2 separate regions of the Homo sapiens genome follow, and region 2 is linked to region 1. The links come from fine-mapping of genetic effects on gene expression. Tissue or cell type: whole blood. Region 1 holds a variant in brackets; the other region holds the start of a gene. All regions are shown on one strand. Distances are from middle to middle.

Region 1 (8,107 bases):
CATTTCCAGTCAAGGAATTAAGGGCTATATATTGTGAGAGTGGGCTTGTCCTCCAATGAAATCATTCAGTGATTTGTTTTAATCATGTCCTGCCTTACTGCATCCTAAATAGAGTCTCCTTTAAGCACACGGACTTTAAAGCCATTTGGACGAGCCTTGTAAAGGCAGACGAATCCAAACTAGCAAAACAAACCTCTTCAGTCAGAAATGTATTTCTGTGATGCAGGATTTTATTCCACATGAATAATCTACTGTTTTCCATGGGGTGGGCATGGGTCAAACAAAGGCAAGGGATTTTGATTTTGTTGTGCAGTCAAAATACTCAGCACTCACTTCTGCCAGGGAATGAAACCATCTCCTCCAGCATTAGAAACAAAGAGCTCTGTGGAAACTGGCCACAGAGCCCTCTGTTGCACTAGGAGGCTGTATTTACAGATCCTCTTCCCTGGCTTCAGACCAGTAGCTAGGTTTCTACTGGCATAAGGGAGAATAAAATGAAACACAGAAGTATGTATCGTAGCCTGCCCTAGGAAGCAGAATTCCTGTTTAGATTCAGAACATGGCCAGCTCCCTAAATCCTGGGATAATATCCCTGAGGTGCATACAAGTATTATAAAAACATGTCCTGGGTTGGCAGCTTGAGATGATAAATGCTTCAAGCCCTAGCCCCGGCACACCACTTATGCTCCCTGAAGAGGCCATTCTGTTCTCTTCTGTGCCTTCGCACACAGCTCTTCCCCCATGCTGGAATGCCTACTCTCTTTAGACCACCTGGTAGATTCCTATTCGCCCTTCAGAATCTAGCTTATGTGATTTTTGTAGGGAATTTTTCAATACAGTCTTCATCCTCCCACTCCCTGCTTCACAAAGTTAATTATTCTCCTTAGGGTAAGCTCCTTATCTGCTACCTAGCACATTTTTCTATGATTCCATCTAACATGCTGTATAGTTATTATGTGTTTACACATCTGGCTTCCAGAACAGTTGGTGAGACCTTGTGGCCTGAGTTAATATATGTATATATTTTATTACATTCTCAGCACCCAGCATGCTGCCTGGCTCTTAGTCACCATTTAATATATCTTTAATAAATTAACAGGAAAATGCATTTTTAAATTCACACAGCATTTGTTTTTTCCTCTTATAAAATTATTCTGTTGTTCTTTAACCGTTTCATGGATGTTCTCTTTTCTTGGGTCACTTATGGAAACCGTCCTTTTCCACCTAACTCATTTTAAACTAAAAGGATAAAAAAGTTATATGCATGTATTATTATAATATATAGTCATTTCTTTTCTGTAGGTATACAAATCTTTATTTATAGAGTCTGCACACTGTAGCATACCAATAAATAAAGCAATTAAGCCAGGTCAGGATAGAACAGGAACCAGAGGTGGGAAATCCTAAGAACTGTGTTGCATATTACCTTGTTATTGAATCATTCTTACCTGCAGTTCCTGTTTAATGCATTGTTATTATTATTATTATACTTTAAGTTTTAGGGTACATGTGCACAACGTGCAGGTTTGTTACATATGTATACATGTGCCATATTGGTGTGCTGCACCCATTAACTCGTCATTTAACATTAGGTATATCTCCTAATGCTATCCCTCCCCCCTCCCCCCACCCCACAAGAGTCCCCAGTGTGTGATGTTCCCCTTCCTGTGTCCATGTGTTCACATTGTTCAATTCCCACCTATGAGTGAGAACATGCGGTGTTTGGTTTTTTGTCCTTACAATAGTTTGCTGAGAATGATGGTTTCCAGCTTCATCCATGTCCCTACAAAGGACATGAACTCATCATTTTTTATGGCTGCATAGTACTCCATGGTGTATATGTGCCACATTTTCTTAATCCAGTCTATCACTGTTGGACATATGGGTTGGTTCCAAGTCTTTGCTATTGTGAATAGTGCTGCAATAAACATATGTGTGCATGTGTCTTTATAGCAGCATGATTTATAATCCTTTGGGTATATACCCAGTAATGAGATTGCTGGATCAAATGGTATTTCTAGTTCTAGATCCCTGAGGAATCGCCACACTGACTTCCACAATGGTTGAATTAGTTTACAGTCCCACCAACAGTGTAAAAGTGTTCCTATTTCTCCACATCCTCTCCAGCACCTGTTGTTCCCTGACTTTTTAATGATTGCCATTCTAATTGGTATGAGATGGTATCTCATTGTGGTTTTGATTTGCATTTCTCTGATGGCCAGTGATGATGAGCATTTTTTCATGTGTCTGTTGGCTGCATAAATGTCTTCTTTTGAGAAGAGTCTGTTCATATCCTTTGCCCACTTGTTGATGGGGTTGTTTTTTTCTTATAAATTTGTTTGAGTTCTTTGTAGATTCTGGATATTAGCCCTTTGTCAGATGAGTAGATTGCAAAAATTTTCTCCCATTCTGTAGGTTGCCTGTTCACTCTGATGGTAGTTTCTTTTGCTGTGCAGAAGCTCTTTAATTAGATCCCATTTGTCAATTTTGGCTTTTGTTGCCATTGCTTTTGGTGTTTTAGACATGAAGTCCTTGCCCATGCCTATGTCCTGAATGGTATTGCCTAGGTTTTCTTCTAGGGTTTTTATGGTTTTAGGTCTAACATTTAAGTCTTTAATCCATCTTGAATTAATTTCTGTATAAGGTGTAAGGAAGGGATCCAGTTTCAGCTTTCTATATATGGCTAGCCAGTTTTCTCAGCACCATTTATTAAATAGGGAATCCTTTCCCTATTTCTTGTTTTTGTCAGGTTTGTCAAAGATCAGATAGTTGTAGATATGTGGCATTATTTCTGAGGGCTCTGTTCTGTTCCATTGGTCTATATCTCTGTTTTGGTACCAGTACCATGCTGTTTTGGTTACTGTAGGCTTGTAGTATAGTTTGAAGTCAGGTAGTGTGATGCCTCCAGCTTTGTTCTTTTGGCTTAGGATTCACTTGGCAATGCGGGCTCTTTTTTGGTTCCGTATGAACTTTAAAGTAGTTTTTTCCAATTCTGTGAAGAAAGTCATTGGTAGCTTCATGGGGATGGCATTGAATCTATAAATTACCTTGGGCAGTATGGCCATTTTCACGATATTGATTCTTCCTATCCATGAGCATGGAATGTTCTTCCATTTGTTTGTATCCTCTTTTATTTCATTGAGCAGTGGTTTGTAGTTCTCCTTGAAGAGGTCCTTCATATCCCTTATAAGTTGGATTCCTAGGTATTTTATTCTCTTTGAAGCAATTGTGAATGGGAGTTCACTCATGATTTGGGTGTTTGGCTGTTACTGGTATATAAGAATGCTTGTGATTTTTGCACATTGATTTTGTATCCTGAGACTTTGCTGAAGTTGCCTATCAGCTTAAGGAGATTTTGGGCTGAGACGATGGGGTTTTCTAGATATACAATCATGTCATCTGCAAACAGGGATAATTTGACTTCCTCTTTTCCTAATTGAATACCCTTTATTTCCTTCTCCTGCCTGATTGCCCTGGCCAGAACTTCCAACACTATGTTGAATAGGAGTGGTGAGAGAGGGCATCCCTGTCTTGTGTCAGTTTTCAAAGGGAATGCTTCCAGTTTTTGCCCATTCAGTATGATATTGGCTGTGGGTTTGTCATAGATAGCTCTTATTATTTTGAGATATGTCCCATCAATACCTAATTTATTGAGAGTTTTTAGCATGAAGGGTTGTTGAATTTTGCAAAGGCTTTTCTGCATCTATTGAGATAATCATGTGATTTTTGTCTTTGGTTCTGTTTATATGCTGGATTACATTTATTGATTTGCATATGTTGAACCAGCCTTGCATCCCAGGGATGAAGCCCACTTGATCATGGTGGATAAGCTTTTTGATGTGCTGCTGGATTCGGTTTGCCAGTATTTTATTGAGGATTTTTGCATCTAT[C/G]TTCATCAGGAATATTGGTCTAAAATTCTCTTTTTTGGTTGTGTCTGTGCCAGGCTTTGGTATCAGGATGATGCTGGCCTCATAAAATGAGTTAGGGAGGATTCCCTCTTTTTCTCTTGATTGGAATAGTTTCAGAAGGAATGGTACCAGCTCCTCCTTGTACCTCTGGTCGAATTCAGCTGTGAATCCATCTGGTCCTGGACTTTTTTTGGTTGGTAAGCTATTAATTATTGCCTCAATTTCAGAGCCTTTTATTGGTCTATTCAGAGATTCAACTTCTTCCTGGTTTAGTCTTGGGAGGTTGTTTGTGTCAAGGAATTTATCCATTTCTTCTAGATTTTCTAGTTTATTTGCATAGAGGTGTTTATAGTATTCTCTGATGGTAGTTTGTATTTCTGTGGGATCGGTGGTGATATCCCCTTTATCATTTTTTATTGCGTCTATTTGATTCTTTAATCTTTTCTTCTTTATTAGTCTTGCTAGCGGTCTATCAATTTTGTTGATCTTTTCAAAAAACCAGCTCCTGGATTCATTGATTTTTTGAAGGGTTTTTTGTGTCTCTATTTCCTTCAGTTCTGCTCTGATCTTAGTTATTTCTTGCCTTCTGCTAGCTTTTGAATGTGTTTGCTCTTGCTTCTCTAGTTCTTTTAATTGTGATGTTAGGGCGTCAATTTTGGATCTTTCCTGCTTTCTCTTGTGGGCATTTAGTGCTATAAATTTCCCTCTACACACTGCTTTGACTGTGTCCCAGAGATTCTGGTACATTGTGTCTTTGTTCTCGTTGGTTTCAAAGAGCATCTTTATTTCTGCCTTCATTTCCTTATGTACCCAGTAGTCATTCAGGAGTAGGTTGTTCAGTTTCCATGTACTTGAGCAGTTTTGAGTGAGTTTCTTAATCCTGAGTTCTAGTTTGATTGCACTGTGGTCTGAGAGACAGTTTGTTATAATTTCTGTTCTTTTACATTTGCTGAGGAGTGCTTTACTTCCAACTATGTGGTCAATTTTGGAATAGGTGTGGTGCTGAAAAGAATGTATATTCTGTTGATTTGGGGTGGAGAGTTCTGTAGATGTCTATTAGGTCCACTCAGGAAAGCTGAGTTCAATTCCTGGATATCCTTACTGACTTTCTGTCTCGTTGATCTGTCTAATGTTGACAGTGGGGTGTTAAAGTCTCCAATTATTATTGTGTGGGAGTCTAAGTCTCTTTGTAGGTCTCTAAGGACTTGCTTTATGAATCTGGGTGCTCCTGTATTGGGTGCATATATATTTAGGATAGTTAGCTCTTCTTGTTGAATTGATCCCTTTACCATTATGTAATGGCCTTCTTTGTCTCTTCTGATGTTTGTTTTATCAGAGACCAGGATTGCAACCCCTGCCTTTTTTTGTTTTCCATTTGCTTGGTAGATCTTCCTCCATCCCTTTATTTTGAGCCTATGTGTGTTTCTGCACGTGAGATGGGTTTCCTGAATACAGCACACTGATGGGTTTTGACTCTTTATCCAATTTGCCAGTCTGTGTCTTTTAATTGGAGCATTTAGCCCATTTATATTTAAGGTTAATATTGTTATGTGTGAATTTGATCCTGTCATTATGATGTTAGCTGGTGATTTTGCTTGTTGGTTGATGCAGTTTCTTCCTAGCCTCGATGGTCTTTACAATTTGGCATGTTTTTGCAGTAGCTGGTACCGGTTGTTCCTTTCCATGTTTAGTGCTTCCTTCAGGAGCTCTTTTAGGGCAGGTCTGGTGGTGACAAAATCTCTCAGCATTTGCTTGTCTGTAAAGTATTTTATTTCTCCTTCACTTATAAAGCTTAGTTTGGCTGGATATGAAATTCTGGGTTGAAAATTCTTTCCTTTAAGAATGTTGAATATTGGCCCCCACTCTCTTCTGGCTTGTAGAGTTTCTGCCCAGAGATCACCTGTTAATCTGATGGGCTTCCCTTTGTGGGTAACCCGACCTTTCTCTCTGGCTGCCCTTAACATTTTTTCCTTCATTTCAACTTTGGTGAATCTGACAATTATGTGTCTTGGAGTTGCTCTTCTCGAGGAGTATCTTTGTGGCTTCTCTATATTTCCTGAATTTGAATGTTGGCCTGCCTTGCTAGATTGGGGAAGTTCTCCTGGATAATATCCTGCAGAGTGTTTTCCAACTTGGTTCCATTCTCCCTGTCACTTTCAGGTACACCAATCAGATGTAGATTTGGTCTTTTCACATACTCCCATATTTCTTGGAGGCTTTGTTCGTTTCTTTTTATTCTTTTTTCTCTAAACTTCTTTTCTCACTTCATTTCATTCATTTGATCTTCCATCACTGATACCCTTTCTTCCAGATGATCAAATCAGCTACTAAGGCTTGTGCATTTGTCACCTATTTCTCGTGCCGTGGTTTTCAGCTCCATCAGGTCCTTTAAGGACTTCTCTGCATTGGTTATTGTAGTTAGCCATTCATCTAATCTTTTTTCAAGGTTTTTAACTTCTTTGCCATGGGTTTGAACTTCTTCCTTTAGCTCGGAGTAGTTTGATCGTCTGAAGCCTTCTCTCAACTCATCAAAGTCATTCTCTGTCCAGCTTTGTTCCATTGCTAGTGAGGAGCTGCGTTTCTTTGGAGGAGGAGAGGTGCTCTGATTTTTAGAATTTTCAGTTTTTCTGCTCTGTTTTTTCCCCATCTTTGTGGTTTTAACTACCTTTGGTCTTTGATGATGGTGACGTACAGATGGGGTTTTGGTGTGGATATCCTTTCTGTTTGTTAGTTTTCCTTCTAACAGTCAGGAGCCTCAGCTGCAGGTCTGTTGGAGTTTGCTGGAGGTCCACTCCAGACCCTGTTTGCCTGGGTATCAGCAGTGAAAGCTGCAGAACAGCGGATATTGGTGAACAGCAAATATTGCTGCCTGATCGTTCCTCTGGAAGTTTTGTCTCAGAGGGGTACCCGGCCGTATGAGTTATCAGTCTGCCCCTACTGGGGGGTGCCTCCCAGTTAGGCTACTTGCGGGTCAGGGACCCACTTGAGGAGGCAGTCTGTCTGTTCTCAGATCTCAAGCTGCGTCCTGGGAGAACTACTGTCTTCAAAGCTGTCAGACAGGGACATTTAAGTCTGCAGAGGTTTCTGCTGCCTTTTGTTTGGCTATGCTCTGCCCCCAGAGGTGGAGTTTACTGAGGCAGGCAGGCCTCCTTGAGCTGTGGTGGGCTCCACCCAGTTCAAGCTTCCCAGCCGCTGCTTTGTTTACCTACTCAAGCCTCAGCAATGGCGGGTGCCCCTCCCCCAGCCTCACTGCCGCCTTGCAGTTTGATCTCAGACTGCTGTGCTAGCAATGAGGGAGGCTCCGTGGGCGTAGGACCCTCCAAGCCAGGTGCGGGATATAATCTCCTAGTGTGCCGTTTGCTAAGACTGTTGGAAAAGCACAGTATTAGGGTGGGAGTGACCCAATTTTCCAGGTGCCATCTCTCACCCCTTTCCTCGGCTAGGAAAGGGAATTCCCTGACCCCTTGTGCTTCCTGGGTGAGGTGATGCCTCGCCCTGCTTCAGCTCACGCTCACCGCGCTGCACCCACTATCCTGCACCCACTGCCTGACAATCCCCAGTGAGATGAACCCGGTACCTCAGTTGGAAATGCAGAAATCAGTAGTCTTCTGTGTCACTTACGCTGAGACCTGTAGACTGGAGCTGTTCCTATTCGGCCATCTTGGCTCCACCCTCCTGTTATTCTTAAATGACACAAAACTGAGATGTGTGCCTCCCCTCAAGACCCTTCCAGAGTTCTAATTATTAGAAACAATAATTTCTTATTATTAAAGACCAAGTTTCCATTTTCTATATATTTGTAAACAGAATCTCCTTTTACTAGCTACACCATTGCATCAAATCTGAGAAAAGCATCTTAAAGTATATATATATATACTTGAATTTTATAATTATAATGTGAATATAAATTATATCTCCTTTCAATTAGGATAAGTTCTTTTTTCATTGCTATGATGAATTTGATGAATGAGCTGGCATTTTGTACATTCTGTTTAGATGTATAATTATGAATCTTTCATTTTAAAAGACTGAAATTCTCAATCTTTCATCATGACAATTAATCACATTGATTACACCGCATTTGTCTCCTTAGGGTAAGGGAAAATGATAATGGCAATCTATAAAGCTAATGAAATCGTATATAATCAAATCACAGACTGTTTAGTGCAATTAATGATTTAGTAGCCTGGACCGTCACT
Region 2 (8,107 bases), 67 kb after region 1:
GGCAGGGGAATCATGAGGTCAGGAGATGGAGACCATCCTGGCCAACATGATGAAACCCCGTCTCTACTAAAAAAATAAAAATTAGCTGAGCCTGGTGGCATGTGCCTGTAATCCCAGCTACTCGGGAGGCTGAGGCAGGAGAATAGTTTGAACCCAGGAGGCAGAGGTTGCAGTAGGCCGAGATCGAGCCACTGCACTCCAGCCTGGTGACAGAGCGAGACTCTGTCTGAAAAAAAAAAAAAAAAACTACTGTCAACAGTTTGGGGACAAAAAGGCGTATGTGTGCCTGTATGCAGGTTTAAACAAATGTATATAAATTTCTTCTGAAGCTAGTTTTTTTTTTTCTTTTTTTTGAGATAGAGTCTCGCTCTGTTGCCCAGGCTGGAGTGCAGTGGCGCGATCTCGGCTCACTGCAACCTCCACCTCCCGGATTCAAGCAATTCTCTACCTCAGCCCCCTGAGTAGCTGGGATTCCAGGCGCCCGCCACCACGCTCAGCTAATTTTTGTATTTTTATTACAGGTGGGATTTCACCATCTTGGCCAGGCTGGTCTTGAACTCCTGACTTCGTGATCCACCTGCCTCGGCCTCCCAAAGTGCTGGGATTACAGGCATGAGCCACCTTGCCCAGCCATTTTTTTCATTTAATATACAGCATCTTGATTTTTCAGCCAATGTGCAAAATAGCTAGCAGACACACATTTTTTGCATTTCTTCCTTTCCCTATAATGAGATTGCCAAATTAAGATTTGCTGTCAAAGGAAGTAAAACAAAGAAACCTGTCAGCTTCATACTGCCTTCAATCTACAACTGGTGAGGACAAAAGGGTAAACATACACACATTAATATACATACGTAATAAATATATAAATTATCCTACATGGCTAAATGTTAACATAAGTAATACATGTACATTGAAATCAAGTTAATTTTCAAAGGCACGAAGCTAAGGAAGACATCTGCGTAGGTGGAGAGACTTAATAGGTTCTGATTAGGGAGGGACACCATGTGGAAATTTCCTGGGCTTTGGAGCCAGAAACATGAGGTCAAATTTAACTCTACCTCTTACTGATTATGTGGTTTGTGTAAGTTGCTTAACCCTTCTGAGCTTCCTTTTTGTCATGCACAGAACTAGGGGAAAGATTTATCTTACAGAGATTGAGATACTAAATGTTTACAATGGTGTCTTGAACATAATAAGTACCCAAAAAAATGCCTTAATACTGTTAATAGTCCAGACACTATATATGATGGAATTGGTGATCCAATACTCACACCACCAAATACCTGTGAACTCTGCTTTTTGTCTTTGTGTTTTATTTGCCTTCACGCTTTTATATTTATTTGTATAGAGATGGAAAGTGCCTTAGAAATAAACTGCTGTAAACATGAAGGACACACAACTACTTAGTAGCTTTAATGCATTATTGAAGTGATGTTCTCTCCTCCTGTTTCCCCAGAGCATCCTGCACTGGGCTCATTAACAATGTCCCATCCTTCCCCTAAGCAATCCTAAATTTTACTTACACCTCGTGATAAATACAAGCCATCTGACTATCACTAAACAGCTGACCATATCCTGCACCTCTGCTAGCAGCTTGACGTGTCAAAAGCCAAGCTTCCCAAAGAGGAGGATCCTATCCTTTTACTTAACAAGGCTAAAACAGATGCATACACTTTTAGCTGGCTAGTGCCCACATCTTGGGGAAAGGACCTACCAAGTACACATCTCCTTTTATTACATATTTTAGTCAACTGTATGTCCACCCACCCTTCACATTCATCTATACTTAAGAGGTTAGATTTCTAGAAAATCATGGACTTCTAGAAGGATTAGGGGAAATTTTGGCCACTATAATATCCAACCATCCTCTTTTCCATGTGAGAAAACTGGGGCTCAGGAAGATGTGACATGCCCAAGCACACACATCTATTTAAATACCAGTTGGGATTAGAACCCCAACTCTTTAAGTCTTTTGCACACTAATAAGCAAGGTATTATATGTTCCAGTAGTTCTGTGAGGTGCTTATTCAATCTTTTTGGGATGAAAAGAAACGTCCGTGGTTGCGAATGCATAAAGGTAATTAACCCACCTGTCTGTCCATGTGGGGATGGGATTAACGAGGGGGAAAGTTGCGTTTGTATTTTTCCACCATCTTACCTAAATTTGCAGGAAAATTGCTCTATGGGCAATAAATATGACCCAGAAAGACTAGCAACCCCCAGTAGTATCTCAAAAGGGCTCCAGAGACATGTTAGACCAAGTGGAAGTAAAGCACGAGGTGGGGGATGTCTGCTAGGATGGTGGCTGGCAGAGCAGAGGTATTTTTTTTTCCGTATTTATTAACCTGGGAGGGCAGACGTTGTCAATTTCCTCCTCCTGCCACACAAGTGGCCGCGTCCTTGTCACTGGGGCTGTGTGGAGGTTCTCACCTCCTCCTTTTTCCCAGGGATGTTTATGGCGAGGGCGCGGGTCGGCCCGGGCGGAGGAGGACCCGGGCATCGGCGCTCACCCTCCGTCCCCACCCGCGGCAGCAGCTGTGGGCGCCCGGCGAGGGCTCCCTGGGCAGCGCCTTTGTTTTCCCGACTCCAGTTACGTTTGCGGAAGTGCTGCCAGCACGGGGCGCGCTGGGGGCGCAGGCGGCAGCCTCCCCCAGCACCCCACAAAGATGACACCCGACACGGAAGCCGGGGGAGGGAGGGAGGGAGGGAGCGGCGGGCGAGCGAGGCCCGAGCGGAGACAGCGGCGCACGCTGGGCTCCGAGCCCCGGCCCCGAAGCCCCTTTCCCGGCAGCAGGTGTGCGCGGCTGAGGTGCCTACCCGCCCTCCGGCTGGGCCCGTGCGGGGCGGGGGAGGCCAGGGCGGGTCTGCGAGCCCCTTCTCCGCAAGCCGGGCCCGACTCACCTGCTGCGGCGGCGGCAGCGCTCAGCTGCGCGGGGCGCGGGGAGCCCTGTCCCCGGAGCACGGGGCGGCGGCTCGGGGCGCCGGGGCGGCGGCTGTCGGGGCAGCGCGCACCATCCCGGGCTGCTCGCGCGCTCCTCCGGGGCTGCGACGGGCTGGGCGGGGCGCGGCGAGGCGAGGCGAGGGATGCGGACCGGGTGGGGCCACGGAGGACGGAGGCGGAGGGCCCAGCGCTCCCGCCGGCGCGACCTTCTCTCCCGCTGCGGCTCCTCCTCCTCCCCGGCCCCGGCCTCACAGTCGCCGCCGCCGGTCACTACCGGCTGGACCCGTTTCAGGGCCGGGCGCTGAGGACCGGCCGCCAGGTGCAGCGCTCCGCCTCCTGCGGCGGCGGCGGATGCGTCGACTGCCCGCTCCCGGCCTCCAGCCCGCCCCGGCGGCCCGGAGGGACACCTGAACCCAGCCGGGCCCGGGGAGCACGCTGAGGAGGCGAAAGCACTGGGCGAGGCTCCATCCCTACCGCACCCTCCACCCCCCCGCACCCCCAAGCGACTTCCGCTGAGCCCCCAGGCAATGAGTGCGGGCCAGGAAATGTGGGGGAAAATGTACTAACATCCCTTATTCCTTGAGCGCCTTTTAAGTGGCACACACAATGCTAATGCTGTCAGTGCGTTATCTCCGCGTCTGTCCCAGGTTGACCCGGGAGGGAGGAGCCGGCGGGGTGCGGGAGACAAACGATCTGTGAGTTTCGGGGCTCACCAAGAAGGGGGAACACTGAGACGAAGGCACCCTTTTTCAGGAAGCTGCTACTGGCATCTTGCTGAAAAGCCAACCGTGTGTGTCGCACTAAGAATATAATTAAAGTTGTATTTCTAGTTAAACACGCAGAGAGTTGGGGGAGAGTGGAGTATTCACTTGGCAAGTATGTCTGTGTGCCTGTGATGGGCTTTGGGGGATGCCACATCCTGTTCTTAAGGAGTTTATTGTCTTGTTCTGGCAACAACGACAAGAGTGACAATGGTAGCTAACGGCAACAACGACAAGAGTGACAATGGTAGCTAACGCTTATAAACATCGATTATGTACGGGGCACTGTGTAGGTACTCTTTGAGCCTTATAACCCTATAGGTGTAGGAAACGTTATTCCCATTTTACAACTGAGGAAAGCCGAGGCTGAAAGTTAATGTGACCCATCCAAAGTTACTAAACAGCGAAAGGGAAAGCAGGCTTCTTTTGTCTCCAGGCTTTAAGCTCTTAACCGTGAAATCATACTGGTAAGAATTTGATAGGCCCTGAAGTTTCTGAATTTTGAGTCCCTCTTTAGGAAGAATAAAACAATTACAAATACGAAGTTTCTAGGGCCCCTTCCTGAGCTTATGAAGGGTCTCTGAAGCTTAAACTATAGTAGCCTCATGCTAAATCCACTTTCAATATTGACGTAGATATTCAATCATTTCTTTCTCCAGGCATTTCTTTCTCCTGTCAGGAACACGAGACACTGGTCCCCTCCTTGAAACTCTTCCCTTCTCTTCTTTTGGTGCTCCGTAAGTGTTGGATTTTCCTCCTTGAAACTCTCCCCTCCTCTGCCTTCTGTGACCCACAAGTCTTGGGTTTTCCTCTTCCTCTCTGGCCACTCCCCTTTGCTCCACTTGAGTTTTAGTTTTCCTTGGGTTTTGTTCTAGGCTTTCCTTTCTTCTGATTCTGTTTGTTTCTGCGAATTCTCTCACTCCTTGGCTTCAATCACAGAATATTTGAGGGTGCTCCAAAAGCCCTCTCTCGGGGTCAGCTTTTCTCCTGAGGGCCAGATCCTTATGGCCAGTTGTCCAGTGGGATGTGTCACAGGCACCCCAACCTCACTAAGTGCCACGTCAATGTTTCTTTACCTTCTGTTCTTCCCCTACTCGTTTTTTTTTTTTAAGATGGAGTCTCACTCTGTCGCCCAGGCCGGATTGCAGTGGCGTGATCTCAGCTCACTGCAACCTCTGCCTCCCGGGTTCAAGTGATTCTCCTACCTCAGCCTCCTGAATAGCTGGGATTACAGGCATGTGCCACCATGTCTGGCTAATTTTTGTATTTTTAGTAGAGATGGGGTCTCACCGTGTTGGCCAAGCTGGTCTCAAACTCCTGACCTCAAATGATCCCCCCACTTCAGCCTCCCAAAGTACTGGGATTACAGGTGTGAGCCACTGCACCCGGCCCCTCATTCACTCTTGCTTCTGGGTTCCCAGACTCTGGGGTCCCAAACAGCCATCCACCCAGTTGTACAAGGCCCTTCTTCTCAATGCTCCTTTCACCCTTATACCCATGCCCAGTGTATTAGTTACCTATTGCTGCTGTAACAAGTTATCGTAAACTTTGTGGATTAAAACACACATTTATTATCTTACGATTCTGGAGGTCAAGAGTCCAAAATGGGTTTTAGTGAACTAAAACCAAGGTGACTACAAGGCTGTATTCTTTCTGTAGGCTGTAGAGAATAACCCATTTCTTTTACCTTTTCCACTTCTAGGGGCTGCTCACATACTTTGGCTCATGGACCCTTCCTCCATCTTCAAAGCACACCACTCTAACCTCAGCCACAATCCTCACATTGCCTTTTCTGACTCTGACCCTCATTACATTGGGTTCACCTTCATCATCTAGCGTAATCTCCTCCTTTCAAGAATCTTAATCCCATCATCAAAGTCCCTTTTACCATGAAGCATATTCACAGGCTCCTGGGATTGAGACATGGACATCTACAGCGGGCCATGACTCTGTCTATGACATCCAGTCAGATGCCAAACTCTTGATTCTACCTTTTCAAATATCTCTAGCACCTGTCCTCTTCTCTCCATCCCTGTGCTATCCTAATCTCTGTTATCTCTCCTTTGCCTGCAAAATTTCTCTGGTCTCTCTGCCTCAAAATGTTCTCTCATCCAATCAACTTTTCACTTTGCCACCAAAGTAATCTGTTTTCTTTTCTTTTCTTTTCGACAGGATCTTGCTCTGTCACTCAGGCTGGAGTGCAGTGGTGTGATCATAGCTTACTGTAACCTCGAACTCCTGGGCTCAAGGGATCCTCACACCTCAGCCTCCCAGGTAGCTGGGACTACAGGTGCATACCACCATACCCAGCCAATTTTTAATTTTTTTTGTACAGGTGGAGTCTCACTATGTTTTAGGAGAGGAGCAATGTTGGCTGGTTGCACAGCTAGGAGGTACAATACAATGTGAAGGGTGCCTCATGGTGTTGCACAATCCTATGAGACAGCAAAGAAATTACATGGTAAGGTGTTTGTAAAGATTCTTTTGGTGTTGGGCGTAGTGGCTCATGCGTGTAATCCCAACACTTTGGGAGGCCAAGGTGGGCGAATCACTTGAGCCCAGGAGTTTGAGACTAACCTGGGCAACATGGCAAACCTCATCTCTCAAAAAGTACAAAGATTAGCCAGGTGTGGTGGCATGCCTATAGTCCCAGCTACTAGGGAGGCTAAGGTAGGAAGATTGACAGAGCCCGAGAGGTCAATCTCCCAACCTTAGCAGTGAGCCATGATTACACCTCTGTACCCCAACCTGGGTGACAGAGTGAGACCCTGTCTCAAAGAAAAAAAAAAAAAAGTAACTGTAACCAGTAGCAAGGAGAAAGGTTAACAGTGGCATGGACCACAGTGGTAGTGGCTGGGATGGAGAGAAACAGATAGATTTGAGAGTTTGGGGAAGTATATGAGCATACTTGGTGATATGTTGCATGTGGGAGGCAAGGGAAAGGAGGTGTTAAGAATGACTCACAGGTTTCTGGCTTGAGCAACTAGGGAAGATTGTGATAACCTTTACTGAGAGGGAGGAGACTGTGGGAGGAGCAGGCTGGAAGGAAAAAAGGAAGAATTCACATTTGACTCAGTGAGTTTGAGATGCTTGTGAGCCTTGCAGGTGGAGCTGTGAAGTAGGCAATTAAACTTGAGTCCACAGCCCAGAAGAAAGGGCTGGATTTGGCAGTCATCAGTATTGAGGTACTATTTACAGTCATTGGACTGAAGGGGATTACTCAGGAAGAGAATAGACTCAGAGAGCCCAGAGAAGGGCCAACATTTACCAGTTGGTATAGGAGAGAAAACCAGGAAGGATCAGTCAGAAGTAGAAGGCAATTCAGGAGGATGTTGTCACTGAAGACTATAGAAGAGTTGTTTCAAGCAGGTGTAAGTGGTTTGCACTCTCTCTCTCCTCCATATCCTAGACAAAGCATTATGTCCTCCATAGACTGGCTTTATCGCCCCTCGGTGGCTTCGTTTACCATGTGCCTTCTCTATCATGGCATCTATCATATACTATTGTAATCATTTGTTTAACTTCTATGCTAGATTGCAAGCTCCTTAAAGACAGGGGGAAACACTATGTTGTTCAACATTTGTATTATTTAGCATGGACAGTAGTCCATTGGAACAGCCCACATACAGTGGTTTAAATTTTTTTAAAAAGTATGATTTTCCCTCATATAAAAGTTTAGGTAAACATATGTAACAAACCTGCACATCCTGCACATGTACCCTGGAACTTAAAAAATCATAAAATTAAAAAGTTTAGGTAAATAAGTGAGCCCATGGTGTTGGGACTCGAGATTTATGCTCTTTTGATCTTGTTGCTCTGTCATCAAAACCCAACATGGCTGCCCCAACTCTTACTCTCATGTGCACATTCCAGCCATTGCAAAAGGGAAAAGGGGAAGGGGAAGGCATTTTCCTTTCTTTTAAGAATATGGGCCGGGCGCAGTGGCTCATGCTTGTAATCCCAGCACTTTGGGAGGCCGAGACGGGTGGATCACCTGAGGTCAGGGGTTCAAGACCAGCCTGGCCAACGTGGTGAAAACCCGTCTCTACTAAAAATACAAAAAATTAGCCAAGCATGGTGCAATTGCCTGTAATCCCAGCTACTTGGGAGGCTGAGGCAGGAGAATCACTTGAACGCAGCAGGTGGAGGTTGCAATGAGCTGAGATCGCACCACTGCACTCTAGCCTTGGCAACAAGAGCGAAACTCCTTCTCAAAAAAAAAAAAAGAAGAAGAAAAAGAACATGACCAGAAGTTGTACATATGTACATATTACTCGTTTAAATTCCAGTAGCAGAACTTGCTCATATGACCACATCTATCTGCAAGGAAAGCTGAGAAATCTAGTCTTTAACTCAGTATCCATGTACACAGATAAAAATTCTATGACTGTGAAAGAAGAGA

The links. PIP is the estimated chance that this variant, and not a neighbour inherited with it, causes the effect.
Region 2: MFSD6 starts here. The variant in region 1 is fine-mapped to the expression of MFSD6 in whole blood (INTERVAL, PIP above 0.99).

The regions. Positions count from the first base shown.
Region 1 is chr2:190,470,581-190,478,687 of GRCh38, reverse strand. The region is part of intron 4 of MFSD6 (major facilitator superfamily domain containing 6); the gene reads right to left. It also overlaps a transcript of NEMP2 not described here. Among named protein-coding and RNA genes, the nearest start is that of NEMP2, 60 kb to the left of the region's middle. The variant C/G (reference allele first, on the strand shown) is at 3,891.
Region 2 is chr2:190,403,301-190,411,407 of GRCh38, reverse strand. It overlaps MFSD6 (major facilitator superfamily domain containing 6), which reads right to left and starts at 3,053. Exons shown (of 8, transcript NM_017694.4): 1 at 2,905-3,053. RefSeq lists a silencer at 2,433-3,472 and an enhancer at 3,733-3,782.